Homo sapiens: one gene and its partners. The protein of the gene in region 1 interacts with the protein of each later gene in a biochemical or structural test. Each region holds a gene or a part of one and is shown in the gene's direction. Other genes may lie near its edges. The genes, in order: PARP1, MACROH2A1, CTSB and NMNAT1.

Region 1 (5,863 bases):
AGAGAAGTTTAAATGATTCTCTCTGGGGCTGTGCAGTAGTGTATAACGGGCAAATGGCCTACCCTTTGTGAACCTCGTGTTTCATTTACAAAAGGGAATAAAAATACCAGCCTGCATTCCTTGGGTGTTGACAGGCGCTAGTTTAAGTAACACTGATGAGCTCATTCCGTCCTCATGGCAGCTCCATGAGACTGTGTTCCCCATTTGAGAAAAGAGGCAAGTAGAGTCCAGAGAGGTTACGTAGCTTCTTGCAGCTCCTTGGCACCTGGCAGAGCTAGGATCTGACAGCCTGGCTTGTGAGCTAAAACTTTGGTATTTCCTCACCATGGGCATTGTGAGAATTAGAAGTGATGGATTGCAGCACTTAGCTGGGTGGCTTGCTCAAGTTGGCACTCAGTGAACAGCTGCTCCTAATTTCCCATCAGAAGATTCTCAGCTCTCCCTTTTCCGACCTTCCAGACAGGCTACATGTTTGGTAAAGGGATCTATTTCGCTGACATGGTCTCCAAGAGTGCCAACTACTGCCATACGTCTCAGGGAGACCCAATAGGCTTAATCCTGTTGGGAGAAGTTGCCCTTGGAAACATGTGAGTAAACCTGGCTCTGGGACTGATGGCATTTCATGGGGACAGGTGGAATGGGCTATAGGCAGAACTCCCCTTGGCTGGGAGAGTAGAAATTCCCCACTGCAGTTACTGGACGCACCAATTAGGATTCTTTTCTTATAAGTAGCAGAATCCAATTCAAGTTAAGGGAACAAGGGAGATACAAGGATACTTCAGGAAATGCAAGGGCAGGAACGCAGCCAGGCCTCCAGAGCTGGCAGTGTCTTCTCTCCATGGACTGGGAAGCAGAGAGATTGAGTTGCACAAAGGATGATCCCCCAGGCCGCCTCCTCCACTCACCAGTGTTTCAGTTTTCTTAGACCAACCCAAATGGAACTGGAATTTTAATTCCACTTCCAGATTCTCCATAGAGAAAGATCTGATTAGTCCAGCTTGATTTGGACATCGACCCTAGTCCTGTGAACTGTAACCAAAAGCACAAGGTCATGTAAAAGGCCAGGGGTCTGGGGACTGTGGAATGTGGACGGAAACCTAGAGCTGCTGACCACCACTCCAAATAGGGCCTTGCCTTGAAAATGGCCCCATAGCAGTGATCGCTGGGCACAAACTATGTTCAGCCGCAACTGCAGTTTCAGGTTCTGGAACAGTTCCAGAAACTCAGGAGGGAGCCTGAGCAGTTTAGATGGTCTGGGTTTTGTGGACTTTTATCTCATCTCTGTATCTGATCTTATTCTCCTAATCAAACTGTTGGTTTCGAGAGCCCAGTGTGAAGGCCTCTTCTGAGACTGTCCTCTTTTGAATAGGTATGAACTGAAGCACGCTTCACATATCAGCAAGTTACCCAAGGGCAAGCACAGTGTCAAAGGTAAAGTGTTTCCAAAGCTGTTGCTACAGCCCGAGGCACCCTGGACAGCACAGAAGCCGGGGGCTTGCTGTCCTGAGAAGGCTGCCTTGTGGCTGGCTGTCAAACAGCTGGAGATTCATTTTATCTTTTCGAGGGGTGTGTGTGCGTTGTTGTTGTTGTTTGGGGGGTGGTGGTGGTGGTTAATATGCTGCAACTGACCATGATTGGAGGTTCATTTTATTTATTTTTGTAAAAAAAAAAAAAAAATAGGCAAGCTCTATAGCAGGAGGTTCATTTTTAAAAACAGTTCACTCTCTGTGGCTGCAGCTGGTATCACAGATGCCACAGGAGAATCTTGGTGCAGGCACCAGTAACCAGATGCACGGGTTTCGGCTTTAACCTAACTTGTAGCTACAGCAGTGAGGGACCTCTCGTGACATAGTAGTGCCTGGAGCATCTTGGATTGCTAGAATTTGCAGCATATGATTTAGAACCTTCCACTGCCTGGTTGAAGTGGCCGCTTTGAAATTCTATTGAGCCGAAATGTGATCCTGTAGGGAGGGTACTGCCACTGTTCTCATTAAACTCAGTGAAGGTTGATGCCCTGGGAACTTTGGTTTATTGCCTTAGTTTTATATCTGAAGAAAGATAGAGCATGTCTTTAAAATGAGCACATGAGGCTGGGTGTGGTGGATCACCTGAGGTCAGGAGTTCGAGACCATCCTGGCCAACATGGTGAAACCCTGTCTCTACTAAAATACAGAAAATTAGCTGGGTGTGGTGGCGCGCACCTGTAATCCCAGCTACTCAGGAGGCTGAGGCACGAGAATTGCTTGAATCCGGGAGGCGGAGGTTGCACTGAGCTGAAGTCACACCATTGCACTCCGGCCTGGGCGACAGTGAGACTCCATCTCAAAAAGGAAAAAAAAAAAAAAGAAAGACCACATGGACCCAACATCAAATAGAGCTCATCTCCCTGGAAGCTTTGCCACATCTGTACTCACAGTTCATGTCACTTGTGACTTCTGTTTTTCAGGTTTGGGCAAAACTACCCCTGATCCTTCAGCTAACATTAGTCTGGATGGTGTAGACGTTCCTCTTGGGACCGGGATTTCATCTGGTGTGAATGACACCTCTCTACTATATAACGAGTATCCTTTCTTGAGTATGCTGTGTGAGCACAAAGGGATGTTCTCGAGCTACAGAGTCACTTATGTGCTGTCAGATTACCTGGGGCAGACAAGGATTAGAGGCTGTCCTGTAGTGTGTCCCATGGTGACTGTTTCCCTTCTGTGGTCCCTCCCTGTGCATAGCCTGGCTTACAGGGTATGAGCCTTCCCCCAGTTTCCAGAGGATGATCTCCTCTCCTCAGTCTGCCTGAAGAAGACTTAGAGTAACTTTCAGGCTGGCATTGAGCATCCTGCCAGCCCCGGGGAGATGAGGCAACCCAGCCCCATGAAGAGGCCTTAGAGTGACTTTCAGGCTGGCACTGAGCGTCCTGCCAGCCTGGGGGAGATGAGGCACATGTACATACCCTCTGTTGTATGGCTGTTGGCTCCTTAACAAGCTTCCCCTCAGGTACATTGTCTATGATATTGCTCAGGTAAATCTGAAGTATCTGCTGAAACTGAAATTCAATTTTAAGACCTCCCTGTGGTAATTGGGAGAGGTAGCCGAGTCACACCCGGTGGCTCTGGTATGAATTCACCCGAAGCGCTTCTGCACCAACTCACCTGGCCGCTAAGTTGCTGATGGGTAGTACCTGTACTAAACCACCTCAGAAAGGATTTTACAGAAACGTGTTAAAGGTTTTCTCTAACTTCTCAAGTCCCTTGTTTTGTGTTGTGTCTGTGGGGAGGGGTTGTTTTGGGGTTGTTTTTGTTTTTTCTTGCCAGGTAGATAAAACTGACATAGAGAAAAGGCTGGAGAGAGATTCTGTTGCATAGACTAGTCCTATGGAAAAAACCAAGCTTCGTTAGAATGTCTGCCTTACTGGTTTCCCCAGGGAAGGAAAAATACACTTCCACCCTTTTTTCTAAGTGTTCGTCTTTAGTTTTGATTTTGGAAAGATGTTAAGCATTTATTTTTAGTTAAAAATAAAAACTAATTTCATACTATTTAGATTTTCTTTTTTATCTTGCACTTATTGTCCCCTTTTTAGTTTTTTTTGTTTGCCTCTTGTGGTGAGGGGTGTGGGAAGACCAAAGGAAGGAACGCTAACAATTTCTCATACTTAGAAACAAAAAGAGCTTTCCTTCTCCAGGAATACTGAACATGGGAGCTCTTGAAATATGTAGTATTAAAAGTTGCATTTGAAATTCTTGACTTTCTTATGGGCACTTTTGTCTTCCAAATTAAAACTCTACCACAAATATACTTACCCAAGGGCTAATAGTAATACTCGATTAAAAATGCAGATGCCTTCTCTATTTGTGTATTGCGTGTCTGGTCTCATTCTGACTACAGATATGGTTAATCTTCACAGTGCAAGGTCCCAAGAGACTTTGGGGGGATTGTTTCTACCCTTAATCTGTGAAACCCCAGAACGTGCCAGGCAGCAAATAGCATTGCTTAATGGGAATGCCCCACCTAAGGGTGGGCCAAGCACCAGGCATAGGAGACACTTTTTTTTTTTTTCGGCTTATCAGATGCATTGTGGTGATGAACTCATCCTGCTCTCTGGAGGACTGCCTTTCATACACCACATTGCCTTGTACAACTGCTCTGCATTTGAGAATCATACTTAAATGTTTACGTTTCAATTGCCTGAAAGCAGGGCCAGTGTCTTATGTCACCTCTGACCTTTTACGGAAGGGGACAAGTGAGGTAGTAGCTCACACCTGTAATCCCAGTGCTTTGGGAGGCCGAGGTGGGAGGATCATTTGAGGCCAGGAGTTCAAGACCAGCACCTTTGACCTGGAGACCCTCTCTCCTGATCATCCAGCAATCCAGGCTGTTCGGCTCTTGGGCTCCTGAGTATTCTGCACTCTTTACCTTTTTTTTTAATCAGCACAGAGAAAGGCAATTACCCTCACAGTACCTGATGAAATAAGTATTTTTAGGTTGGAGTGATTACTTAGTGAGTTCCCTGTAATCAAAACTGGTTTCTTTTTTTAAGGAAGATTCACATTTCTCAATCTATTTTCCTTTCAAAAGAGAGAAATTAGCACTTTATGTTTTAGTATACACATTCTGCTTTTCTCCCTTCACTTTAAAAAAATTCAAGTCCTGGCCGGATGCAGTGGCTAACACCTGTAATCCCAACATTTTGGGAGGCCAAGGCGGGCGGTTCACGAGGTCAGGAGATGGAGACCATCTTCGCCAACTGGTAAAATTTCATCTCTACTAAAAATACAAAAATTAGCTAGACATGGTGGCGCTCACCTGGAATCCCAGCTACTCAGGAGGCTGAGGCAGGAGAGTCGCTTGAACCCGGGAGTCAGAGGTTGCAGTGAGCTGAGATCATGTGTGGCAACAGAGCAAGACTCCGGTCTCAAAAAAAAAATTCAAGTCCTATCTCAGGGTAGCAACTAAAATGTGAGAATTTCGTTTAAAAATTAAAGCCAACCGTGAACCTGGGGTTGGAGCCTGCAGTGAGCCGAGATCGCGCCACTGCACTCCAGCCTGGGCAACACAGCGAGACTCCGTCTCAAAAAAAAAAAAAAAAATTAAAGCCAACCTTGCATAGAAACTCGGGGTGCTCCATGAGAGAAGAGAGAGGTATAGCCCTCTGCCCCTCCTGGTGAGCTGCCCTCCTCCCGCCTTTGTGCCTGGAAGTGCCCTTGGCCAACAGTAGTTGCCCAAGGCAGTACTGGGCTCACATGTCAGAGCACACTGTTGCACACAGTGGTGCATGCATACATCTATAAAAGATGCGCTGCGTACACAGTAGTGTTTTAGCCAATGTGCTAGCCAATGAATTCTGCATCAGTGGTTATCTCTTGCTACACAAGAGGTGAAGAACCATTCCTTCAAGCGTCCCAGAGCTCTAAGGCGAAGCTGCTATAGAATGATTTGCCTAGAACTTTGCCTTAGGGCAAACCTCAAGTACTGCTTTTAGGAATGAAATCTAATGGTGGCCTTGTCCCTGGTGCGGGCATAGTATGTACTCAGTGTTAATTGTTTACACCAAAAGCCTGGAAGCTGCATTGTCTTTTGGCCTTCAGAAACCTTGTATCTTAACTGTTAAGATCTGAACATTGGGAATCATTCACCTCTGACCTGTTGGGCTGGTTTTATTCCGCTCTATAAAGTACACCCAGGTGCTTTAGGAGTTCGCATTTCTCAAAGTGGTGTCATTGCCTTTCCCTTAAATTCTGTTTTGACTCCTCAGAGATTGGTGGTTGCTTTTTTGAGGCATAGTGTTTCCACCATTTCATCAGGCAGGGCCTGCCAAATTGAGTCTAAGTTGAGGCCATTGAGGTTTAGGGAGGTCTGATACAGTGCTTAGCAT
Region 2 (9,960 bases), on another chromosome or scaffold:
AACATATGTTAACTGTTAAGCATAACAGCAAAGAGTAAACTATTGGCAGAGGAAACACCAGGTTTTCTGTTGCTTTTTTCCTCCTTTTGGCACAAATCCATCCATCGAAATCATCCAGTTATAGATAGAGGAAATCGAGGCAAAGGAAGTGCAGTTTTCTCCTGGTAATCAAGCTTGTCGCACTTTTTTAACAGTGCAGTTGTAGCCTCAACAGTAGTAGCTTGAATTTACTGAGTATACTAAGCATTTTACTTGGTAACTCATTAATCTCATAAGCCTAGAGGTAACCTCAGGTATCACTCCCCCTGTACAGAATAGGAAACTGAGGCTTAGATGCACTTGGCCACATCTTACAGATAATTACAGGAGCTGGGATCCAAACCCCGACGGTCTGTCAGCAGACCCCGGGCTCTCACCACAGTGCCATTTGCGATTGCTGCCCTCCCCTGCAGACAGAGCGGGCAGCTGAAACAGCACCAGAGGTGAGGAAGGCAGAGGAAAACTTCCTGACAAGGAAGATATTCGGGCACTGAGTTGGGTTGGTGGGTTAGATTAAGGTAATGTTTGCTAAGAATCATAGCTCCCCTGTGTTATTATGTATAATGTAAACTTATTTATTTTTTACTTTGAAATAGGGCTGAAAGTTCCAGTCAGTGGAACTTACTTTACAGATTCCCAAATTAAGCTGCATTTCCATCTTATTGGGAGACTTTGTGGGAAGGCAGAAGACTGGACCAAATGCTGTCTCTGAGACCCCTGGCTCCTCCTGGACTTTTCGGAGGAGTCTGCAGTGGGCTTAACAACAGTAGAGGAGTTTGTGTCAGGCTTGGAACCATCTTTGGAATACTACTTTCAATCACTGCTGTAGGTTTTATTTTCTCTATGGAATTCTGGTTCCTTTGAGGCCCCTGGGACAAGCAGATGGAGAGCTTTGCTGTGGCCCAGAGCTCCCAGCTGATGGCTGGGCAAGCTTCAGACCCTGCCACTCAACCTCCTGAAAAGGTGGGATGGGGGCAATGGATTCTGGGATGCGGCTGCAAACACTCAGAGCCACCAAGGGAATTGGAGGAGGTTGTGGTGTGGTCAGAATGCAGGAAGCTCTTAGCAGTCACCTTCCGATTGGGGTTGATTGGGTTAAGGCCTTCTGGGATGGTGTAAAACAGTTCTGAACTCAAAGGACTGCTGATGGAAGGATGATGAATCGAAAGAAATACAATAAACAGATTCCTTGTCATGTTGTTGGCCTTGTAGCAAACATGTTTTCTCCTTGGGATTACGTGAACATTTGCTTTTCTTTGATTTCTGGTTGTTATTTTCAGTATTTCTTTTGTTAAATGAGCTCTGTTTTACAGAGCTTCAGACAGCTCCGTTAAAGCCCCTGACTCTTTCCTATTGCAAGGGTTGTGTTTAGAGTTTGGCTCAGCCTCAACACATCACCTGTTAGCTGTTAGGAGTCTAATTCTGCAAACCATGACTTCATCTTGCTGAAGGAAGATAGACAAAATGCTTCAATACAACAGATATGTTTTAGTTCAAGACATTTGGAAAAAAGAAAAAGGACCCTAAGCCTTTCGTCTCTGGGTGGACTTGCAAAGTAGACCTGTCAAAGGTATTCATGTTCAGACGGCTGGTCTGTAGTCAAAAAGGCTGCCAAACCATGCTGTTATCCAAGGATGTGGGAATTTTGTCAAGCGGCCTTAAAACAGTCATGTTCAATGAAGCTGGGGAACGTTTGGCCCAGGATGTCCCTGCAGGGCTTGCAGCTCTGAGGAGAGGGAATATGGTTGCATCATCTAGGCCACTACAGATGATGGTGCCAGCCACTCACTAGTTGCCAGAGACTGGCCCTGGCCAGGAGTGAGAACCAGAGGCTTATGTGTTTTGAAAAACAAAAATCTTAGAAGAGTTAATGAGCTGGCCAGTTTGCTCACCATTCAACTTGTTCCCTTTGCACCATTTATAATTGGGAACTTTACCACACTTACAGTCCTCTTCAGAGCAGACCCTAAGCGCCTTGGGCCCCAAATCAGTCTAGTATTGGTCATTGGTAACAAAACTTAGACTGTCACCGACTGAGAATACTTGGCTTGATGGGGTGGAGAACCTGGTAAGGGGTTCTGTTTCTTCTCCTAATTGTTCTTTTCCGTTTCTTCCTGTGGTTTCTTATGGATTCCATTTATTTTGGTTACAGCCTCCAGGCTGTGGCTCCTGAAAATTTCCTTCAAGAGAGAATCCAAGGGCTGAGCTCTGGAAACTCTGGAGAAAAGGATTTTTGTGTCCATAGATCTGGTGTTTTCCTGGTTATCTTTCTCAGAATCGCTTTTCTTTTAGACCAGCCACAGACAAAACAGAGACTCACAAAACCTTCCAAAACATGAAATGAATTGAGTGCAAGAACCCACCCTCCCCCTTGTAGGAAGGCATCGGCTCCATTCACTTTGAGGCAGAGGCTTAAGTTGGCTCTGTTCTAGCCTAGGAGAAAGCCCTCCTTGCTGGTGGGAATGTGAGGGCCATCCCAGTGTGCATGGGGGGCAGGCAGGCATTGCTGTACAGCCCTGAGCCTGGGGCCTCCATGACTTTGCCCTCCATATTATTGCAAAGCAGAGGATCACTTACAGGGAAGAAAACTACATCAGGACATCTCCTTTGGTGACGTGTGCCCTGTCCCAATTCCTCAGCAGTCAGTCACCCTCTCCGCTCCCCCCTGAATAGGAACATGCCCTGGAGAGCAGATGGGAACCGTTCCATCTTGTTGAGTTGCTGGCATTTTGCACCTCTGCTGTCTCTGCAGCAGGCAACTCTTTCTTAGCCAGGAAAGCCCTTTACGATGGCTTTTTCTAAACCTGGACTAAGGATGAGAGGGTGAGTATTACTGATGGTTGGCAGGGGATGAGTGTGTATTCTGGGTTACTGCTTTTGTTAAGTCGGGCACCCTCCATTTTCCCTGGCCATGGTGAAATGCCCCGGCCCTCTGCTGCTGCAGCACAGGAGAGGGGTGGGACACTGAATATACTTCTCATAAAAGGTGTGTTTCTGAGGTGCTCTGTCTTGTGTGTCCCTTAACGATGGGGTTACTATGGTAACTATCCATCTGAAAAAAATGCAAGAGTAAACAGAAGATAAAGCTCTTGCTTAACTAGCTGGAAGGTGGATCTGTGCCCCTCTTTGTTATCCCTACTTGACACAGCTCCCTCCTCCCTACCCACAGGGCTGAGGGCCCACCCTATGGTGGTAGGAGTATGGAGAGGCAGTAATTTTGGCTTGTGCAGATAAAAGATGAGCTGGGGTTTTGCAAAAAGGAAGAGTCTTGGATTCTGGGGCTCCTTGGTAAAGAAGGCAACAGAATGACATCCCTGCCCAGCTCTTTCTAAGGAGCTGAGATGCTCCTCCTTCTGCCCCTCCTTATCCACCTTGCTACTCACTGTCACTTACAGGTTGGTCCAGTGTGGCATCCCTGATTCCCAGTTGAATAGCAAAACATAAGCATGGTCCTTCAAGTTTCTCTAATGGAGAAACTGAGGCTACTGAACTTTTCAGTCACAAAGTAAGAGCATAAAGGGGTAAAGCTTGCGAAGCCAGGGATAATGTCCTCTAGCTCCTGGAGAATCCATTTTCAGGTTTCTCAACCCGATGTGCTTACTTCTGGGCTACTCTGTTGCTTTCTGTTCTTTACATACTACCTGCCCTCACCCAAGTCAGGGGCCCAACCACACTCTTCAGGTCTTTTTATCCATCATTCTCATTTTTCCTGCACAAAAAAAAAGTGAAGGCAGCACTGCAGAAAATATAGACCACATCCCTCCCCTCCTCCCCGACCACCAACGGCCACTGAGCCTTCTCTCAGGGAGGGCCTTCCTCCAACGTTTTGGGCAGGAAGAGGAAACAGGCCACCTCCACTTTCCTGAGAAACTGTACCTTCAAACGATTTTCTTGCCAAAGGGTTGGGCTTAGGACTTAGCAAAACAGGTCACCACTGTGGGCATTCTCCTTCTGCCTCCCTTCCTCTCTGTTAATGAGGGGGCAGATAAAGCATTCTTGGCACATTATGGTCAGAAGATTGTAATCCATCAGCCTCCTCCTGTATATTCTGGCTCTGCAGATACCGATGGCCCAAAACTTCGTTGTGGCCTCCAAAAGGGGAAGGTTGTGGAAGGGAGGGGAAGCCAGCAAAGTGGGCTACAGCTCAGTGGTGCTTGATATGCCTCTCAGGCCTTCCTGCCGTGAGGATTCTGCCCAGCACCCATCGTGGCTGACTCTCCTTCATGTTCCATTGCTCCCAGGCTCTGTGTTCTTGTTGGGCTTAGACTCTTGGTTTGGCATCCTCTTGGGCCGTGGGCAGGACAGTGGCATTACGGATGTGCTCTCCCGCCCATGAACACAGGAGAATGAAGGCCAAGCTGGGCTGGCCAGGCAGGCGCTTCTGCATTCACAGTACCCAGGGCCCAAGGTCACATAGGCATCACAGGCACCTTTTTGGCTTGGCCAAGGTGGGCCCATCACTGCTGGGCATTGGGACACTACCACGATCAATGATAGGGAAGCTTCAGTGAAAATGCTGGGTGGCCATCTCCCTCCTCCACTGGTAAACTAAACTGTGCTGACACTGGTACAGGGAAGGGAATAGCGTTGTGGAGACTGATGGGTGAAAGTGGGAAATGTGAGCCCCTCCACCAGATTCCATGTAAGCACTGGCTATCTTGCCTTCCACCCTGCCTTAGTTTTGTGGCTCTCACATGTATAAAGCCCAGGTAAGGGACCCTGTGGCATTCTTTATCACTCTCTGTATCACTGGCATGTGTAGCCCTGCAGGCCTGGGAACACTGAGAAGACAGGGGCCTCCTGGTGCCTTGGGTCCCTCCTGCCAAGCACAGAGTTGTGTGTCATCAGTATGGTGATTACTGAGCAAAGGAATTCCTGCCTTGGATTTAGGGGGAAACCTGCTATTTCAAGTGTGTCTGATCTCCTCCCGCCCCTGCCCCCAAAGCTAATATGAGAGTTTCCTTGAGTAGCCAAGCAATTTTTCAGCTTTACACACATACAGCAGGTTATTTGCATTGGGTGGAGCTGTTAGTACCTCTTAAAAATGCATGCCCTGTGTCATACCGTAAATTTTTAACACACGATTTTTATGCAGCTAGAATTTTCTTCCTAGTTATTTCATAATGATTCTGAGTGCTGGTGTTGCTGGAGAAATCTAGTGTTTACAACATAACTAAATATTAGAAATTCTTTAGTACTGGGAGGAGGTCAGATTTGAGTTGGGCCCAGAAGGGTAGCCTAGAATGACATCCCAGTGTGGGCAGAATTGCAGAAGTGGAGAATATAAGATCCATTCTGGGTCTATCCGTATGCCTCACTAAGAAAACAAGGAGACAGTGATGAGGTTGACAGGTTACCAAGAGAACTGTAATGCCAAGGAGAAAACCAGGTTTTGCCAAAGGGTACTTCCTAGTTCCCACCATCTTTGGTGCTGTGGAAAACCTGTCTTGTCTTGTGAGACTGTGCCCAGATGGCAGGTAAATCAGCTCTTAACTTAGTACTAACTATGGGTTATGCTCATAGCCCTTCTAGTTTTTATTTTCTTGCATACATTTTATTTTGAAAAATTTCAAACATACAGAATGTCAAGAATACACTGATTTCATCACCTTACATATTTGTTTCCTTGTGTTAAGAACTTTTAAAATCTATTATTTTAGCAATTTTTAAATATACATGATTGTTAACTATAGTTACTATTCTGCACAATAGATCATTAAAACTTCTTCTAACTGAAACTTTATGTCCTTTGACCAACATTCGCCCCGACCCCACCCCCAGTCCCTGATTCCACATAGAAATGAATTCATGCTATATTTGTCCTTCTGTGCCTGGCTTATTTCACTTAGCATAATGTCCTCCAGGTTTATCCATGTTGTTGCAAATGACAGAATTTCCTTGAAAGAGGAATGTTCTTATAATCATATACCTAGATTTAACAACTGTTAACATTTTGCCATATTTGCTTTATTCCTTAGAGCTTTTTCAGAATGGAGGGCAAGTTGTAGGCATCAAGATGCTTCACCCCTAAATACATCAGCATGTATCTCCTAAGAACAAGGATGCTCCCTACAGAATGGCAATACCATTATTACACTTAAGAAAATAATCCCGTGTGTCTGATACCCAGTCCACATTCAGAGCTCTTCAGTTGTCTCCAAAATGACTTTCCTAGCTTTTATTAAAAGAATCAGAATTTCATCAAGGAGTGACACATTATATTTGGCTTTTACATCTTTTTCACCTTTTGAATCTACAACAACCTCCCCCCACACACACACACTTTAAAAAATGTATTTGTGATGTTGACTTTGTAAAGAATCCAGTCACATCCTTCCAGTTTTGCATCCAGATGTGCAGGCATTCAGCATTGATGTAATCAACAAAGATTTAACAGGCCTCCTCAATAGCAAGCCATCCTGTCCTTGAAACTCTAAGCAGGCATGGTATACTCTCAGGGACCACACTGAGGACTTTGGGTTTGGCCCTGGTGACATCTGCAGTGCTAACTGCAAGCACCCTTTCTGGGAAATGAGAGCTGGAACTGGGTTCAGATCTCAGCCCTCCCACTCACTCACTCAGTGATCTTCAGCTGGTCCCTTCTCCCTCAGCTTCAGTTCCTTCATCTCCCAAACAAGGGCATTGGACCTGGGGCTTCCTAGGTCCCACTCAGCTTTGCCATTCAGCACCTCTGTGACTCTGCCCACAGCTTTTCACCTCAGGGTAGCTGCTTCCTGAAGCAGCTGCCTCTGCCCATTCCTGGCACTGTGAATGTGGGGACCGGGGCGGGGACACATGGTCCTCTAACATGACCATACACTCATCTCTGCTCCCCACAGCGGAGATTCTGGAGCTGGCTGGCAATGCAGCGAGAGACAACAAGAAGGGACGGGTCACACCCCGGCACATCCTGCTGGCTGTGGCCAATGATGAAGAGCTGAATCAGGTATGGGCCTCTCCCATCTCCCACTGATGTTTGAGCAGGTGGTCATACTGCCCAAGAAACATAGCTGAGAGGCTTTGGTGTTGGCTGGTTATGAAAGGTGTGGACTGCCTTTTGGATTAATTAGCAGCTTCTCTGCCTCCCATGGCAGTTTTTCCCCAAGGCCTTATTGGGAGTGTTGGGGGAAGCAGGATAATACAAGGTATTTGGCTCTCCCGAAAGGAGAGAGATGATCTAAATTCCATTTGAGTGAGGGACTCTGGGGACTGGATCCCTGAGCAGTGAGCTTGAGTCCTGGCAGCATCCTCATGGAGGATGCCATGGAGGAAGGAGCTGCACCAACCCAAAGCAAGACTGTCCTGGGCAGGGCTGGCTTCTTGAAGGTTAGAAGCAGGGTATCTGGCTCACTATCTGCTATTCTGGTTTTCCTGAAAGCTGCTAAAAGGAGTCACCATAGCCAGTGGGGGTGTGTTACCCAACATCCACCCCGAGTTGCTAGCGAAGAAGCGGGGATCCAAAGGAAAGTTGGAAGCCATCATCACACCACCCCCAGCCAAAAAGGCCAAGTCTCCATCCCAGAAGAAGCCTGTATCTAAAAAAGCAGGAGGCAAGAAAGGGGCCCGGAAATCCAAGGTATGTGATTTGGCCAGAATGTATGAAGTGGGATAGGATGGGGTACGGATAAACAGGGTTACCAGGGCACCCCCCTCATTCCCCCTGTGGGCTCATCCCACTGATGGGAGAATAAAGGAGGAACATGTAGGAGCTGATTACTCTCCAGAGGGGCTAGTCCAACACAAGTAGCCAGAGTCAGGAGGCCCTCCCAGAGTCTGGACCCAGTTGAAGGACAGAACCTCTGTAGGCAAGGGGGATGGGTGGTGGGCTTTCAGGGATAGTGTCAAGCTGGAAGGACTCCCAAGCTGGCCCTTCCAGGGAGATGCACACACCTGTGGGAAGGGGGCTTCCCTGTGTTAGGGGACAGCCACTGTCTAGTCCTGTGGCCAGCTACCTGCATGCCCTGATGCTCAGTTGCAGAACTCTCATGTTGCCATGGCTGCATGTCTTCCATCAGGGCGCTCTAGACAGTTCACTCCAGAATGGTTGCCTCTGTCAAGGAGGAAAATGGATGTATTACTCAGGTGCTTCTTCCTGGGCCTAACTTGGATTGGCTGGGTCCTAGGTGCTGGAAACCCTCTCATTAGTGTTATCTAATGTCATCTTGGGTGGAGAAGGCCAGCAGACTCCAGGTCATGATCCTCAGTGTGGAGGAGCACCCTCCGGAGGTCCAGGCCTGTGATTGCTGTGCTCACCTGTCTGAGCATGAGCTGGAGACTACAAGGCAACTGGGATACATTTTCTTTGTTCCTTCTTTGCCCAGTCCTACTTGTCAGCAGTTGTCACAGCCTCCAGAGCCAACAAACAATGGACAGTGCCACCAAATCTTGGTCTCTAAGAAAATGGAATCTTGAGGCTGCCCTGCTCTGAGGTACCCCTTAAGGAGTCCTCCTTCTGGCCTCCAGCCAGATCAGGAGGAAATTACCCATGGCAGAAGGTGACCTCTGTATTTTGCAAGACCCTCAATAAGAAGTCCTGGAAATGCATCTGTGGAATCTAATGATGCAGTGTCAGGAAGTTCTTCCTACATGAGCCCAAATCCTCTCACCTGAGTGAGACAGTGAGGACACCTTCCCAGGACAGGCTCAAGGAGCTGTGACCAGGTGAACAGAGCTCCTCCTGTCCTGTCAGCATGTCCTCTCCTTTGAGCCTGCCTGTGCCTCAGGCAGACTGGCTTTCACCCGCATGCAGGGACATCTTCTGTGAACCCCAACCTTCTTGCATCCACACTGTTTGTGGCTTTTAGTTGAGGTGAAAGAGGCTGTATTTCTTTGCATGCACAAAATCTAAATTCCTCTTGCCAACATGCCACCCACCCTTAGGCCCAGAATCACTCCCAGCTCTTTGAGAGAGAAACCCAATATTGAGGAGTGTCCTATAAGTTATTTCCAGACACTTGCATTCCATCTAGCTCACAAGTCCTGGAAGAGGCTTGAGGCCAGGCAGGGATTTCACAGAATGCGCCACTGCTCATTCCTGCTAACTATAGAATTAGCAGATTGGAAAGTTTCTTTTTCCCTTTCAACATATGCATTTGGGAGGAGGGCGGGGAAGGGAAGGCAGGAGGAAAGTGCTTGTGCAACCCTTTCTAAATGTTAAAAAGGCAACGAAGATACTGAATCTATCATCTTTTGATTATGAGCCCCAGAGACCTGGCTGCCCACAGAGCAGGGCCCTTGGTGCTGAGGACCAGCAGGGGCAGGACCACGTCCTCAGCTTAGCCTTTGCCCTGGCTGTGTCCTGAGCCATCACCCTCCTTCATGCGTTCACTGTTGATACTTGAGTGGGTCTCTCAGATGCCAGTGTCTGCTGGCAAACCTGGGCTGAATCTTGTTCCTGTTACTCTAGTCTTCCCCTAGTAGTTTTTGTTCTATGACTTTCTGAACTTTCCAATTTAGTAAACACTAGGAATTCATCTTACTTTTTGGACTTGAAGTATTTGGAGTGGGGGTGTCTTTAGCTCCTAGTAGCTATATTTGGAACTTAGTGTTTCTAATAACCATATGCCAATAATCACTCGACCACTCAAATTTCCCTTGATTACAAAAGCAGGAAGCCTGTTATGGTGGTCTGTTTTTCTTCCACACAATAAAACACATTGTCTACTTACTGTACCAGTATTTGGCTAACATTAAACCCTGGGGGAAGCTGAAATTGGAACCGTGAACAGCTAATTTTCAAAACATTTGTTTAATGTAAATTGTGGTGTCAGCTCCCAGAAACAGCAGAAAAGCCTGCATCTCTAGGTTTAAGTGGAATGTTCTGAAAATAACCTTTCCAGGGACATGCAGAGAAAGCCTTAGTAACATGCTAAAGCACTTGTAGTGAGAGTTGGTATTTTTCAGGTGTCAACACTTGAATTC
Region 3 (9,960 bases), on another chromosome or scaffold:
CAGGCAGCAGTCTCTACGTCTGGTCCCAGGCTGCCTGAGAAAGAGCATGTGGGAGGCAAACCTTGCGCCCTGGCATGGTTGTTAATGTTTATATTTACCCTAGCTTGTGTGGGGTAGGAGGTTTAGGGATCAAATTCCACTCTGTGTTTAGACATTTTTTTCTTTCTTTTTTTTTTTGAGACAGTTTCACTCTGTCACCCAGGCTGGAATGCCGTGGCACAATCTCAGCTCACTGCAACCTCACCTCCCAGGTTCAAGCAATGTTCCTGCCTCAGCCTCCGGAGTAGCTGGGATTAGAGGCATGCACCACCATGCCTGGCTAATTTTTGTATTTTTAGTAGAGACCTCAAATGATCTGCCCGCCTCGCCTCCCAAAGTGTTGGGATTACAGGTGTGAGTCACTGTGCCCAGCCATGTGTTTAGACTTTTAACTAATCTCTTTTTTAGTTTCAAGCCTTATCGTCCGCCTCTGTAGACCACTCCTGTGCCTGTTTCCTGATCCTTCCAAGGGCCATTGTATTCCCTGTCTGCTGCCCCTCTTTTGGATTCTTCTGCACATTTTTTTGTTCATGCATTCATTCATTTATTGTTTGATTAATGACAGGGTCTTGCTTTGTCTCCCAGGCTGGTGTGCAGTGGTGCGACCACGGCTCACGGCAGCCTCAGCCACCCAGATGTAAGCGATCTGGTTCCCACCTCAGCCTCCCGAGTAGTAAGTAGCTGGGACCACAGGCGGTGCCCAGGTTTTTTTTTTTTTTTTTTTTTTTTTCGTTGGTAGAGACAGGGTCTCACTGTTGCCAGGACTGCTCTGAAACTCCTGGTTTCAAGTGATCCCCTTGCCTCCTCCCACTTAGGCCTTCCAAATGCTGGGATTACAAGGCATGAGTCACCTCCAGGCCTTTTTGTACTTTTAAAACTCTGCATCAGTGTATAAACAATGTTATTAAAGTTTATATGACTTCAGTTACACTACATGGATCCTTTTTCACTCACGGTTGTGAGATTTATTTCTGTTGCTACATCCAGTTCTAGTCCATTTGTGTTAAGTGCCCAGTGTGTTTATCTACTGAGGGACAGTTATGTTATTTCGTGTTCACTATTATCCCATGCTACAATAAATATCCTGTGTCTCCCAGATACTTAGAAGAGTTTCTGCAGGGCACATGTGGGAGAGTTTGTTTCTGGGTCATGAGGTGTGTTCATCTTCCATCTTGCTAGATGCTGGCAAAGGGTTCTCCAGTGTGGTTGCATCAATTTACTCGCCCAGCAGTGTGCAGAGTTCCTGTTCCTCACATTTACCAACACTAGATAGTACCAGACTTTGATTTTTGCCAATCTGATGGGTTTGAAGTGGTACCCCTGTTTTAATTTCATGACCAGAAATTCAAATTTAATCTTTGCTGTAGGACAACAGTAACCCACTTATGCCTAGTGTTCCATTATTAGAACGCTAAGCATGTGGGAGTTTTTACATCATACTGCTCAAGGTCATCGCCAAGGTCTGATGTTTTTACTCGTGCAAAAATTTAAAAAATTGCAACCTCTGGCATAAATGGGTTGAGTGACACTTTTCCTGTTTTTATTGTTGGTCAGTGATGGCATATTTGCTGGGTTTTTTTGTTTTTTTTTTGAAACGGAGTCTCACTGTGTCGCCAGGCTGGAGTGCAGTGGTGTAATCTCGGCTCACTGTAACCTCCGCCTCCCGGGTTCAAGTGATTCTCCTGCCTCAGCCCCCTGAGTAGCTGGGATTACAGGCGTGTGCCACCACGCCCAGCTAATTTTTGTATTTTTAGTAGAGACGGGATGTCACTATGTTTGTCGGGCTGGTGTTGAACTCCTGAGCTCATGATCTGCCTGTCTTGGCTTCCCTAAGTGCTGAGATTACAGGCCTGAGCCACCGCTAGCCTATTTATTTTTTATTTTAAATTTTAATTTTCTATATAGAGACGAGGTCACTATCCTGCCCAGGCTGGTCTTAATCTCCTGGGTTCAGTCAATCTTCCCACCTTGGCCTCCCGAAGTGTCAGAATTATAGATGTGAGCCACTGTGCTCAGCCCAGAACTGATGTTTTCTAAATGCTGGGTGCTGAGAAGGATGTGTGGCTGGCAGTCTTGACTGTGTTATCTGTCTTTACCAGGCCAGTAACTTCTTTGGTCTGGTCATCAAGATAATCTAGCATCACCAGCAAGCATGCATGGAGAAGGATGGGCCCAATGTGGCCAAGATGGTAACGGGACCAGTAGAGAGCCCTGTAGAAGACATCTAGATATTCTGCCCTAAGAGCCCGGAGGGCCGGGCTGTCTCATGACCCTCTGACGTGCTGACCTGGACTCTGGCAGAATGTGCACACACACAGTCACACAGCTTCCTGGCTTGCGCAAGTCCCAGGAGGGCGGTGCCAGCCACAGGCTTTTCCCATTCGAGGGTTGGAAGCGTATCATCAAACCACATCAGAGTGCTGGGGGCCACCTGCCACCCATTCCCAACCCACTCAGCCTTCCTGGTGTTTGGGACATGCTTTGCTTTGGCAGTCAAGACAGCAGAACAAATCAACTTTTAAGGCCTTGTCACTGATAGTACAATTTCCATTATTTTTCATCCAAATTAGGATACTTCTGAAAATAGAAATGATGACTCTGGGATGCAAACGTTGGCTGTCCTATGTATAAGGAGATGGCTTTTCACGCTCCCAGTGACTGAGGAAGTTTCTCCCAGATGGCGCTGCTCTGAGCCTGGTGCAGGGTAGGCACTTTCAAAAGAGTGTCTCCTTGTATCTTCCATCAGCCTTGCGAGATGGGTATCTGTTCCCAGGGCCCCAAGGGAGGAAAACAGGACCTAGCTGGATCCAAGAGCTAGGCCTTTCTTTTTTTTTTTTTTTTTGAGATGGAGTCTGACTCTGTCGCCCAGGCTGGAGTGCAGTGGCGTGATCTCGGCTCACTGCAAACTCCGCCTCCCGGGTTCACGCCATTCTCCTGCCTCAGCCTCCCGAGTAGCTGGGACTACAGGCGCCTGCCACCATGCCTGGCTATTTTTTTGTATTTTTAGTAGAAACGGGGTTTCACCGTGTTATCCAGGATGGTCTCGATCTCCTGACCTCGTGATTCGCCCACCTCAGCCTCCCAAAGTACTGGGATTACAGGCGTGAGCCAGCATGCCCGGCCCAGAGCTAGGCCTTTCTGTGGCTGGCCTTCGCGTCAGCCTCAACTACCCTGGTGTAATCTCGCCTGCGGTTGAATTAGGGAACCGCCGTGTTCTGCAAGCTGGAGAGGCAGAACACTAATGAGCAGAACACTAATCTCATTGCAATCTCAAAGGATCTCTAAAAGCTTTTATAAAGCAGGCCCAAGGTCCTTTGGTATCCGATGCAGACGTGGTGAATGCATTGGCTCTGTCAGCATCTGAGCAAGTCAGTAACAGAAATGGGGAGTAAAAGCTTTCAGAACTTTCCAGAATATTGACTAAATTGTCTTGTTTACAACCAACAACGACAACAAAAAATAACTGCTGAGGGCCTTCGTAGTGTCTGCTGTTTCAAGTGTACAGTAGTCATTTTGTCTGCAGGATGTGGGGTTGCTGTGGCTGACCTTGTACAATATTCCACTCATAGGTGTCTTCAGGCCTATGGAGAGCAGCTTGCGTGGGCTGGGCCTGCAGTACCTGGTTTGCATAGATGATTGGCAGGTGGGCAGCACGGGGAAGGACCTGTGAGTGGCCAACCTGGTTCAGGTGAGGGAGGTGGAGTGGGGCTTCTCTGCTTCCCCTGGTTCCCTGGAAGCCTCCAAGGCTGGTGAGCATCACTGCTGCCTCTGCACACCTGTGTGCTGGGTGGGTTTTCTGACAGGTTTTCAGTTGCTTCGGGGCTACAGCTGCAGGGAGCCTGCTCCATGGGACAGATGGGCCTCTGGTGCCCGTTCATCAGGGGACTGATGAGACCGAGGCCTGAGAGCCCTTTGGATTTTGTTTTTGTCCTTAATTTAATCATAAGCCAAGAATCTACTAAACACAGTTCCATTAGGGGCAAAGACGTAACACATCAGAGGCCACAGCAAGGCTGTGATTCATACTCAAAAAGGAAAGGTCTCTGGGTCACAACAGAGCATAGTTGAGGTCAGCACACTCCCACCCAGTGCAGGGCTGCTCCAGCATTGAGGTGTGTCTGGCAGGTTGAAGTAGGGGAAGATGAAACTCGCCGAAGTCTTGTTTTGTGGTTGCACTTAAGTGGTCAAAACTTCAGGAGCAACTGCCGTTATTAGCGGTGAGTGCCAAGACTAGTTTTTATAGAAGAGAAAGAAACAAAGTACTCTGGGAAGGTCTTACTGAGCCTTCACAGTCTCCCCACCTTTCCACTGTTCCCGTGCTCTTAGCCGCTCTGCTGGCCTATAAGGCACAGTCTTCATTTGTGGCTTCTGGCAAAATGTAAGCACTTGACTTTTGTTTTTGTTTTGTTTTGTTTTGTTTTTTTGAGACGGAGTTTCCCTCTTGTTGCCCAAGGTGGAGTGCAATGGTGCGATCTCAGCCCACTGCAGCCTCCACCTCCTGGGTTCAAGCAATTGTCCTGCTTCAGCCTCCCGAGTAGTTGGGATTATAGGTGCACAACCACCACGCCTGGCTAATTTTTTGTATTTTTAGTAGAAATGGGATTTCACCATGTTAGCCAGGCTGGTCTCGAACTCCTGACCTCAGGTGATCCACCTCCTTGGCCTCCCAAAGTGCTGGGATTACAGGTGTGTGCCACTGTGCCCGGCCAACTTTCAATTCTTTAGAGCTGACTATGAGAGGAGCCAGCAGTATAGCCACAGCACCAACGAATGAGGAAGAGCAAAATACTGCATGACAGCTTTGCTAAGAATTCTTTCACTTTTTTTGTCTATCAGCCAGGAGCTAGCAACTTGGCTTATTTGGAAATTTTAAGTGTACATATCCTGTCTCCTTAAATCCTTTACAGATTTAAAGTGCAGTCTACCTGAGGGCTCTGTGACCATGTAAGAAAGCTTTTTCTTTCTTTTTTTTTCTCTGAGACAGAGTGTTGCTCTGTCGCCCAGGCTGGAGTGCAGTGGTGTGATCTTGGCTCACTGCAACCTCTGCCTCCTGGGTTCAAGCAATTTTCCTGCCTCAGCTTCCTGAGTAGCTGGGACTACAGGCAGCACCACCATGCCCGGCTGAGTTTTGTATTTTTAGTAGAGACAGGGTTTCACCATGTTGGCCAGGCTGGTCTTGAACTCCTGACCTCGTGATCCGCCTGCCTCAGCCTCCCAAAGTGCTGGGATTACATGCGTGAGCCATTGTGTCCGGCCTTTTTTTTTTTTTTTTTTTTTTTTTGAGACAGAGTCTCGCTCTGTTGCCCAGGCTGGAGTGCAGTGGTGTGACCTCAGCTTACTGCAACCTCCGCTTCCTGGATTCAAGTGATTCTCCTGCCTCAGCCTCCCAAGTAGGTGGGATTACAGGCACCCACCACCGTGCCTGGCTAATTTTTGTATTTTTAGTAGAGACAGGAGTTTCACCTTGTTTAGTAGAGACAGGCTGGTCTCGAACTCCTGACCTCAGGTGATCCGCCTGCCTTGACCTCCCAAAGCGCTGGGATTACAGGCATGAGCCACTGTGCCTGGCCAGAAAGCCTTCTTTATTGAGCTTGGTGGCAGCCCAAAACTGATTCTTTAAGGGTGTCAGGACTTAACACCTCCTGTGACTTAGCCGCACCTCCTCTCCTTTGACTTTCATTCCACCTCCTTCCAGGATCGCAAGGTCCCTATTTGTCCTGGAAACGGCTTCAAGGTAGTCTAGGGTGCCGTTTGCCGGGGGAGGAAGGTGCTCTGGTTGATAGAGTCGCCTGGCCGCACACTCTTTTTGGCACATAACAACGTTCTACAGAGCCGGGGTGGAGCGTGCTTTCTCATAAGTGCTCTGCAGGTTTGGAGAGAGAGGATATGAGGAGCACCCTTTTCTGTTTTTTTTAACCCAAAGATTAGCTTGGAAAAGGGGCAGAGGGGTGCACTGGAACTCAGGTCTGCCTAAGCAGCACAGCAGACCAAGGTCTAGAGATGACATCTGCTCGCAGCTGTTCTTCCACCAGCCCGCATCCTGGAAAGGGGTCTTGTGGCACACAAGAGTTCACATCCTTCCCTCGTGAAATAAGGACTTTGTGTTCATCATCTCTTGTAAGAAGCAGAGCAGAAAGCACAGAATTAAGAAATAAAAGGGAAGTGGGTGCCTATATAAAGGGAAGTGAAAATGGGTTGCTGTCCCATGCAAAGACCCTGGAAAGCTGTTAACAGCTCAGCTTGTCACTTTCACCATCTGCATTTGTCCAGAGTGATTGAGATTTGCGTTGTTGTGGAGAGAAAGGCGCCTGTTGCACAATGGAGTGAGATTGCCACTGCTGTCAGGACCTCTGTGTTTGGCTTGACACTTTTTGAGTTCTCAGCAGTCTCGGGACCCTCAAGAGTGGAAGCATTTTTGGATGTTAAATGCTGGGGTTAATTGAAGTTAAGAGCTTGTTTTACTGGGCATGGTGGCTCACACCTATAATCCCGACACTTTGGGAGGCCAAGGCGGGCAGATCACTTGAGTCCAGGAGTTTGAGACCAGCCTGGGCAACATAGCAAAACCCCATCTCTACAAAAAATACAAAGCTGGGCGTAGTGGTGTATGCCTGTAGTCCCAGCTCCTTAGGAGGCTGAGGGGAGCAGATCTCTTGAGCCCAGGAGGCAGAGTTTGCAGTGAGCCATGATCGTGCCACTGCACTCCAGCCTGGGCAACAGAGTGAGATCCTGTCTTAAAACAAACAAAAAAAACAAACTTGTTTTCATTTAGACTCTTCCTGGCGTTGGGGACCTATTGGAATAGGTTTAGTGTGAACTGAGAGCTAGAAGTGTTAGAGGAGAGAGGGAGGGAACAGAGCCCGCTGGAGCGAGTGCCCTTCCTACCTTATCACTGCATGCCAGGCATGTGCCGGCGCTTTGGTCCTCCTCATTTCATTCTTGACTGCCACCTGAGACACGATGGTTACTAGCTCCATTTTATAGGTGGTGAAACTGAGGCTTGGGGAAGGTCAGACCCCAAGGGTGCCATTTAGTCAGTGGCAGAGCCAGATCCAAATGCAGGTCTCCTGACTCCAAGTGCAGGGCTCATTTTATCGTCCGGTTGCAGCACGCTGGCGGCCCCTTGAGCCCCAACCTGGATACCATAGGGGAGGAGCAGAGAAGCCAGGAACACCACAGCCCTGGGCCAAGGTGCGGGGCTGAAAGAACTTCCCAGCGCTCAGCCTGGGACTAGTGGAATGGGCTGGGCCCTGGGGCTGGCAGCGGTGGCCCCGGGGAGCCTGGGAATGAGTAGGGAGCACAGGGAGGTGTGGGAGGGCCTGGGAACCATGAAAAGGAGGGCGGGTGCAGGGAAGTCGCCTGCTAGTGAAGTGGCGAGGGGGCCCTGTGGGACTCCAGGGAATGGCCACGGCAGGTTGTCCTCCAGGAGTTGAGAGCCACTGGACATGGCAGCTGCCTGTGTTCTCAGCCACCACAGTAACCAAAGAAATCTTGGTTTTAAAATTCAAGTTGCCATGGAAACGCTCCCATCCTCGACTTGGCTTATTATTTAAAATAACATCTCTACAGCACAAAGCCCCCGGGTACATCCAAGGACACTGCTGTCTGCCCACGAGACATGCTAACCTCACAGTGTGGAGGCTGTGTGGGTCACTGACATGCATGGCCACGTGAGACGCTGCCTACCCACGAGTCACGGAAAAGGGGAAGATTATTAAGAAAGTCACTAGGGGCCAGGTCCAGTGGCTCATGCCTGTAATCCTAGCACTTTGGGAAGCTGAGGCAGTTAGATCCCTTGAAGCCAGGAGTTCAAGACCAGCCTGGCCAACATAACGAAACACGGACTATACTACAAAAATTAGCCAAACGTGGTAGCACAGGCCTGTAATCCCAGCTACTCAGGAGGCTGAGGCACAAGAATCACTTGAACCTGGGAGGTAGAGGTTTCAGTGAGCCAAGATTGCGCCACTGTACTCCAGCATGTGCCACAGAGCGAGACTCCCATCTCAAAGTCACTAGGGAGGAAGCCTCATTGGTGGGAAGGAAGACCAAATTGGAAATGCTCTGAGGAATCATTAAAACAAATGTCCTTTTATCAGTTTGGTGGCTCAGGGCCTTTAGTAATACTGCCAACTATTTTTCCTAGAAGAAACAAAACTGAAATAATAGGAACATACTCACTTTTTTTTTTTTCTTAAAAGTAAGGGTATGTTGTGAAAAAAAGTCTCCCCACCGTAGTGACCGACTGCCGTGCATCTTCCTTGGCATTTTGCATGTAGTGGCAGGAGTGTTCCTACATGTGTAGATTGCTGAGAGGGTCAGATGCTTATGGTCCTCAGTCACCCACAGCTTGCTTTTTCCCCACTTAACATTGGGACTTGGGGCATTTTTACTCTGTTAATACAATAGAATTCACTTCAACTAGTTGGTTTTTTACTTTTATTTTATTATTATTATTTTTAGATGAAGTCTCAATCTGTCGTCCAGGCTGGAGTGCAGCCTCTGCCTCCTGGGTTCAAGTGATTCTACTGCCTCAGCCTCCCAAGTAGCTGGGATTACAGGCATGCGCCACCACGCCTGGCTAATTTTTTGTATTTAGTAGATACAGGGTTTCACCACCTTAGTCAGGCTGGTCTCTAACTCCTGACCTCAGGTGATCCAACCGCCTCGGCTACAGGCATGCGCCACCGTGCCCCACCAACTAATTGCTTTTTTAATGGTTGCTTCATATTCTATTTAACCACTTACCGTAATTTAACAGTTACTCTGTTATTGGATACTTGATTCATTTCCAGGACATGCAGATTTAGAAACTGGTGGGCGTTGCTGGTTGATGTCTCGGTGGTTGTGCCCACCCACCCCAGGCACTCATTATCATGCCTTCCGTTTCCCCACTTCCTAAGCCCTGCAAGAAGTGCCAAACTGTCCAGCCCTTGCCAATCTGATACATGCTGAATACCTCCTTGATTTTATCTGCACCTCCCTGAGGTTGAACTTATTTTACTTTATTTTATTTTATTTTTGAGGCAGAGTCTCACTGTCACCCAGGCAGGAATGCAGTGGTGAAATCTTGGCTCACTGCAATCTCCACCTCCTGGGTTCAAGTGAGTTGAAGCAATTCTCCTGTCTCAGCCTCCCAAGTAGCTGCGATTACAGGCACCTGCCACCACACCTGGGTAATTTTTGTATTTTTAGTGGAGACGGGGTTTCACCATGTTGGCCAGGCTGGTCTCAAACTCCTGACCTCAGGCGATCCACCTGCCTCAGCCTCCCAAAGTGCTGAGATTACAAGCTTGAGCCACCATGCCGGTTGAACTTATTTTTATCTGTGTTGGCCATTTGTAGTTTTTCTATTATGCTGGTTCCATTTTTCTGACTTTGAAGAGCCTTTTGTGGAAACGAAGCCTAAAGTATATGTGAGTACTGCTTTGTTTCGTCAGTTTTTGTTTTAAAGAGACTTTTCAGTGTAATGCAAGCATTTTCCCTTGAAGGCTGTGTTTCCTGTCAATCCTAAGCTTTCCTCCAGCATTACCTTTTTAAAAAACTTTATTTTCTATATTGATGGGGTCTCACAATGTTGTCCAGGCTGGTGTTGAACACCTGGCCTCAAGTGATCCACTTGCCTTGGCCTCCCAAAGTACTGGGATTATAGGCATCAGCCACCGCACCCAGCCTGTTTTTCAAAGGGCATTGATTTTTTTCATAAAACTTTTTAAATTAAGATCTGTGGGCCTGGTGCGGTGCCTCACGCCTGTCATCGCAGCACTTTGGGAGGCTGAGTCAGGTGGATCACGAGGTCAGGCGTTCGAGACCAGCCTGGCCAAAATGGTGAAACCCTGTCTTTACTAAAAATATGAAAATTAGCTGGGCATGATGGCACATGCCTGTAATCCCGCTGCTCGGGAAGCTGAGGTAGGAGAA
Region 4 (4,601 bases), about 220 Mb from region 1:
CTAATTTGTTTGTATTTTTAGTAGAGACGGGGTTGCACCATGTTAGCCAGGATGGTCTTGATCTCCTGACCTCATGATCCGCCCACCTCGGCCTCCCAAAGTGCTGGGATTACAGGCGTGAGCCACAGCGCCTGGGCCTTATTTTTTTTGTTTTATAGAGATGGGGTCTCACTATTTTGGCCAGGTTGGTCTTGAACTCCTGGCCCCAAGCAGTCCTCCTGCCTTGGCCTCCCAAAGTGTTAGGATTACAGGTGTCAGCCACTATGCCTGGCCTTTATTTTCATTTTATATTGCATACTTGTGGGTGTCTGGAAAATGCCCCTTGTTAGTTGCATGAAGTGAAGGAGAATAAAAGGCACTTGGAGCTTATTTCTCCTGCAGTGGTCTCTAATCTTTGAGGTGTCCTGGGTCTCTTTTGGGAATCTGATTCTCATAAAATAAAAGCTCATAAAAACTGTGAACTGTCATTCTTTTTTTTTTTTTGAGACAGAGTTTTGCTCTTGTTGCCCAGGCTGGAGTGCGATGGCACAATCTCGGCTTACTGCAACCTCTGCCTCCCGAGTTCAAGTGATTCTCCTGCCTCAGCCTCTCAAGTATCTGGGGTTACAGGCGTGCGCCACCACACCCGGCTAATTTTGTATTTTTAGTAGAAACGGTATTTCACCATGTTGGTCAGGCTGGTCTCAAACTCCTGACCTCAAGTGATCTACCCGCCTCGGCCTCCCAGAGTGCTGGGATTACAGGCTAGAGCCACCGCACTCGGCCTAAGCCCTCATCCTTGAAAAGCACATACGTATCTTCATTTTGATACAGTGGGTTATTAGAAAAGTAAACCCCTTTCCACTTGGAGGAGGTAGAGGGGAAGAAAAAGCATACCCCAAAGCTCTGTTTTATTCTTCCCAGCTGTGCCAAAGGTCAAGCTGCTGTGTGGGGCAGATTTATTGGAGTCCTTTGCTGTTCCCAATTTGTGGAAGAGTGAAGACATCACCCAAATCGTGGCCAACTATGGGCTCATATGTGTTACTCGGGCTGGAAATGATGCTCAGAAGTTTATCTATGAATCGGATGTGCTGTGGAAACACCGGAGCAACATTCACGTGGTGAATGAATGGATCGCTAATGACATCTCATCCACAAAAATCCGGAGAGCCCTCAGAAGGGGCCAGAGCATTCGCTACTTGGTACCAGATCTTGTCCAAGAATACATTGAAAAGCATAATTTGTACAGCTCTGAGAGTGAAGACAGGAATGCTGGGGTCATCCTGGCCCCTTTGCAGAGAAACACTGCAGAAGCTAAGACATAGGAATTCTACAGCATGATATTTCAGACTTCCCATTTGGGGATCTGAAACAATCTGGGAGTTAATAACTGGGGAAAGAAGTTGTGATCTGTTGCCTAAACTAAAGCTTAAAAGTTTAGTAAAAATCGTCTGGGCACAGTGGCTCACGCCTGTAATCCCAGCACTTTGGGAGGCTGAGGCAGGTGGATCACGGGGTCAAGAGATCGAGACCATCCTGGCCAATATGGTGAAACCCCATCTCTACTAAAAATACAAAAATTAGCTGTGTGTGGTGGCACGTGCCTGTAGTCCCAGCTACTTGGGAGGCTGAGGCAGGAGAATCACTTGACCCCAGGTGGTGGAGGTTGCAGTGAGCCAAGATTGCACCATTGCACTCCAGCCTGGCGACAGAGCAAGACTCTGTCTCAAAAAAAAAAAAAAATTTAGTAAAAATCAATGGTAAGCTAAAATAAGTTTTTGTTTGTTTATTTGTTTTTGAGATGGAGTCTCTACTAAAAATACAAAAAATTAGCCAGGCATGGTGCCGCATAACTATAATCCCAGCTACTTGGGAGGCTGAGGCAGGAGAATCGCTTGAACCCGGGAGGCACAGGTTCCAGTGAGCCAAGGTTGTGCCACTGCACTCCAGCCTGGGCAAAAAAGCAAAACTCCATCTCAAAGAGAAAAAAAAAAAAGACCGGGTGTGGTGGCTCACACCTGTAATCCCAGCACTTTGGGAGGCCTAAGTGGGTGGATCACGTGAGGTCAAGAGTTCAAGACCAGCCTGGCCAATATGGTGAAACCCCATCTCTACTAAGAATACAAAAAATTAGCTGAGCATGGTGGTGGGCTCCTGTAGTCCCAGCTACTTGGGAGGCTGAGGCAGGAGAATCGCTTGAACCTGGGAGGCAGAGGTTGCAGTAAGCCAAGATCGTGCCATTGCACTCCAGCCTGGGTGACAGAGCGAGACTCCATCTCAAAAAAAAAAAAAAGCCTGACAGCTAGCAGGTTTCAGGATCCATCTGCCAAGTTAGTGAAAGGCTGGAGCCTCAAATCATACAGATGAGGGTCATTTTCTCCTCCTTAGCTTCTTGGAGTTTAAGAGTTGAAGGAGTCCTGAAAAGTAATGATAGAGCAAGATGAAGCTATCAGAACTGAATTTGGACTTCCTCTGGGAAACTACACCTAGTTCATCTGAAGTGTCACGTAAACTGCAGAAAGTTTCCAATGCTGGAAACTTCTCTCATACTATCGTGCCTTCCTACTCAGAAGTGCCTGTGCCCTGCTCAGCTGTGACTACTGACCTCAGGACCTCACTGGACAAGGCATGTGGGGACCCTTGCAGGAGCCCTGGTAAGGGTACAATGATCCTATTGTTTTTTGTTTTTGAGATGGAGTCTCACTCTGTCTCCCAGGCTGGAGTGCAGTGGTGCGATCTCCGCTCACTGCAACCTCCGCCTCCCGGGTTCAAGCAATTCTCCTGCCTCAGCCTGCTGAGTAGCTGGGATTACAGGCACCCACTACCATGTCCGGCTAATTTTGTATTTTTAGTAGAGATGGGGTTTCGCCATGTTAGACAGGCTGGTCTTGAACTCCTGACCTCAGGTGATCTGCCCACCTCGGCCTTCCAAAGTGCTGGGATTACAGGCATGAGCCACTGCACCCAGCCTGATCCTATTGTTGCACTATTTATGGAGCAACAACTTTGTACAAAGAACAAGCTTTGTACAGAGAACAAGCTTGGCTTTTTCTCCCAACGCCGAGGATGCTGTTGATGCTGCCACGTAATAGCATAATTTTGGGTGTCCTCAAGGACAGAACTTCCACTTTGAATAATGGAAGTTAGAACAATGAATTTCACAGGGGAATAAATATTAATGACTGACGTGAAGAAAATATGCCATTGTTTATTCCCTCCTGCATCATTTCCATAATTTGCTTTTGTACTGTCAATTTAGAGGAAATGTGTGATGCTGGTGTTTTGTTTGGCCTGTTTGTTTGATGCTGGGGGTTTTATGTGTTGTACCCTTTACCCCTTACATTGTGTAATTTGAAAGTGGCAAACAAACCTGCAGTAAAAGTCCTTGATTGGCATCTTCATTCGGATGATGGAGAGCCTTTGTGGTAGTGTTTGCTTATGTGAACAGCAGGCCTTTCAGATAAGAGAAGTGGCTTTTCCTTGGTGATGAAGGGGTAGAGATTGAGCCATGGGGATGGTTTAGGTTAAAGAATGCTTTTTTTTGGCCATCATGAGGATCTAACAACAGAGTAGAAGGAAGGATGCCCTAGGTCAGCATGCAGGGTGGTGGGAGGGCTTTCATCTTCCTTACCCAAGCCTCTCTTTTCACTTTTCTAGAAGTCCAGAAGTTGTTATATGATGAAATAGCCTCCTTTAACGTTTATTTCTGGGTGCCAACGGAGGCCCATTCCTCTAACATTCTCATAATTTTTCTCAAAGGCCTATGATCTAAACATTTCACCACGGCATCCACTCAGCTGTGAGGCTGCGTACACAGTCTCCACCTCTGAAATCTGAACTTCGTTTACCAGTGGTGCTGTTTGAACTTCATAATGTCAGCACTTCCTGAACACTTACTGTGTGCTTGGCTTGTGCTCCTGAGTGCCTTATATCATAAGGAAACGGCAAAATCAGGGGACTGGTATAAATGGTGAGCTGAGCTTGAATCTAAGCTTTGTCTTCAGAGCCAGTACCCCTAATCTCTCTTTCTGTAAAATATTACTTTTCAAAGAATGAAGTTGTAGCCAAATCTTGAAATTTTTCATTTACCCTAAGTGAGGACAAATAAAGCTTTCAACAACAGTTTGTGGTAGTCTGATGGAGATGAGTCCGACGTATTCAGTCCTCACGGAAGGACTAGGCTGAACTTGCCCAGTGTTAGCAATTCCTTGGAACTAGAACAGTGGAATCCGAGGGAGAAGGTGATATGGGCCATAATTAACTTTTGTGTTTGTGTGTGTGTGTATGTGTGTGTGTGTTTGCTTCTGAGACAGTTTTGCTGTGTCACCCAGGCTGGAGTGCAGTGGCACAGTCTCGGCTCACTGCAACCTCTGCCTCCTGGGTTCAAGCAATTCTCCTGCTTCAGCCTCCCAAGGAGCTGGGATTACAGGCGTGTGTTACCACGCCTGGCTAATTTTTGTATATTCAGTAGAGACAGGGTTTCACCGTGATGGCAAAGCTGGCCTCAAATGATCCGCCCACCTTGGCCTCCCAAAGTGCTGGAATTACAGGTGTGAGCCATCACGCTCTGCCCAGATAGGGTTTTTGACCTGTCATAGTGGTGCCTGGTCCCATTATTCTCT

The links.
Region 2: the proteins of PARP1 (region 1) and MACROH2A1 form a complex in vitro, tested with the Homo sapiens proteins (2 studies listed by BioGRID).
Region 3: of the proteins of PARP1 (region 1) and CTSB, one has a biochemical effect on the other in vitro, tested with the Homo sapiens proteins (one study listed by BioGRID).
Region 4: the proteins of PARP1 (region 1) and NMNAT1 form a complex in vitro, tested with the Homo sapiens proteins (one study listed by IntAct).

What each region holds. Positions count from the first base shown.
Region 1 is NC_000001.11:226,358,667-226,364,529, reverse strand, and holds the end of PARP1 (poly [ADP-ribose] polymerase 1), read left to right. Parts: intron 1-459; coding exon 460-587; intron 588-1,369; coding exon 1,370-1,431; intron 1,432-2,446; coding exon 2,447-2,561; intron 2,562-2,988; coding exon 2,989-3,070; 3' UTR 3,071-3,839; downstream 3,840-5,863. UniProt on the Homo sapiens protein: Poly-ADP-ribosyltransferase that mediates poly-ADP-ribosylation of proteins and plays a key role in DNA repair.
Region 2 is NC_000005.10:135,367,061-135,377,020, reverse strand, and holds part of MACROH2A1 (core histone macro-H2A.1), read left to right. Parts: intron 1-6,878; coding exon 6,879-6,985; intron 6,986-7,417; coding exon 7,418-7,615; intron 7,616-9,960. UniProt on the Homo sapiens protein: Variant histone H2A which replaces conventional H2A in a subset of nucleosomes where it represses transcription. Nucleosomes wrap and compact DNA into chromatin, limiting DNA accessibility to the cellular machineries which require DNA as a template.
Region 3 is NC_000008.11:11,855,128-11,865,087, reverse strand, and holds part of CTSB (cathepsin B isoform 1 preproprotein), read left to right. Parts: intron 1-604; exon of another isoform or gene 605-712; intron 713-2,609; exon of another isoform or gene 2,610-2,743; intron 2,744-3,608; exon of another isoform or gene 3,609-3,727; intron 3,728-7,147; exon of another isoform or gene 7,148-7,230; intron 7,231-9,960. UniProt on the Homo sapiens protein: Thiol protease which is believed to participate in intracellular degradation and turnover of proteins. Cleaves matrix extracellular phosphoglycoprotein MEPE. Involved in the solubilization of cross-linked TG/thyroglobulin in the thyroid follicle lumen.
Region 4 is NC_000001.11:9,981,398-9,985,998, forward strand, and holds the end of NMNAT1 (nicotinamide/nicotinic acid mononucleotide adenylyltransferase 1), read left to right. Parts: exon of another isoform or gene 1-369; intron 370-903; coding exon 904-1,304; 3' UTR 1,305-3,738; coding exon of another isoform or gene 3,739-3,746; 3' UTR 3,747-4,101; downstream 4,102-4,601.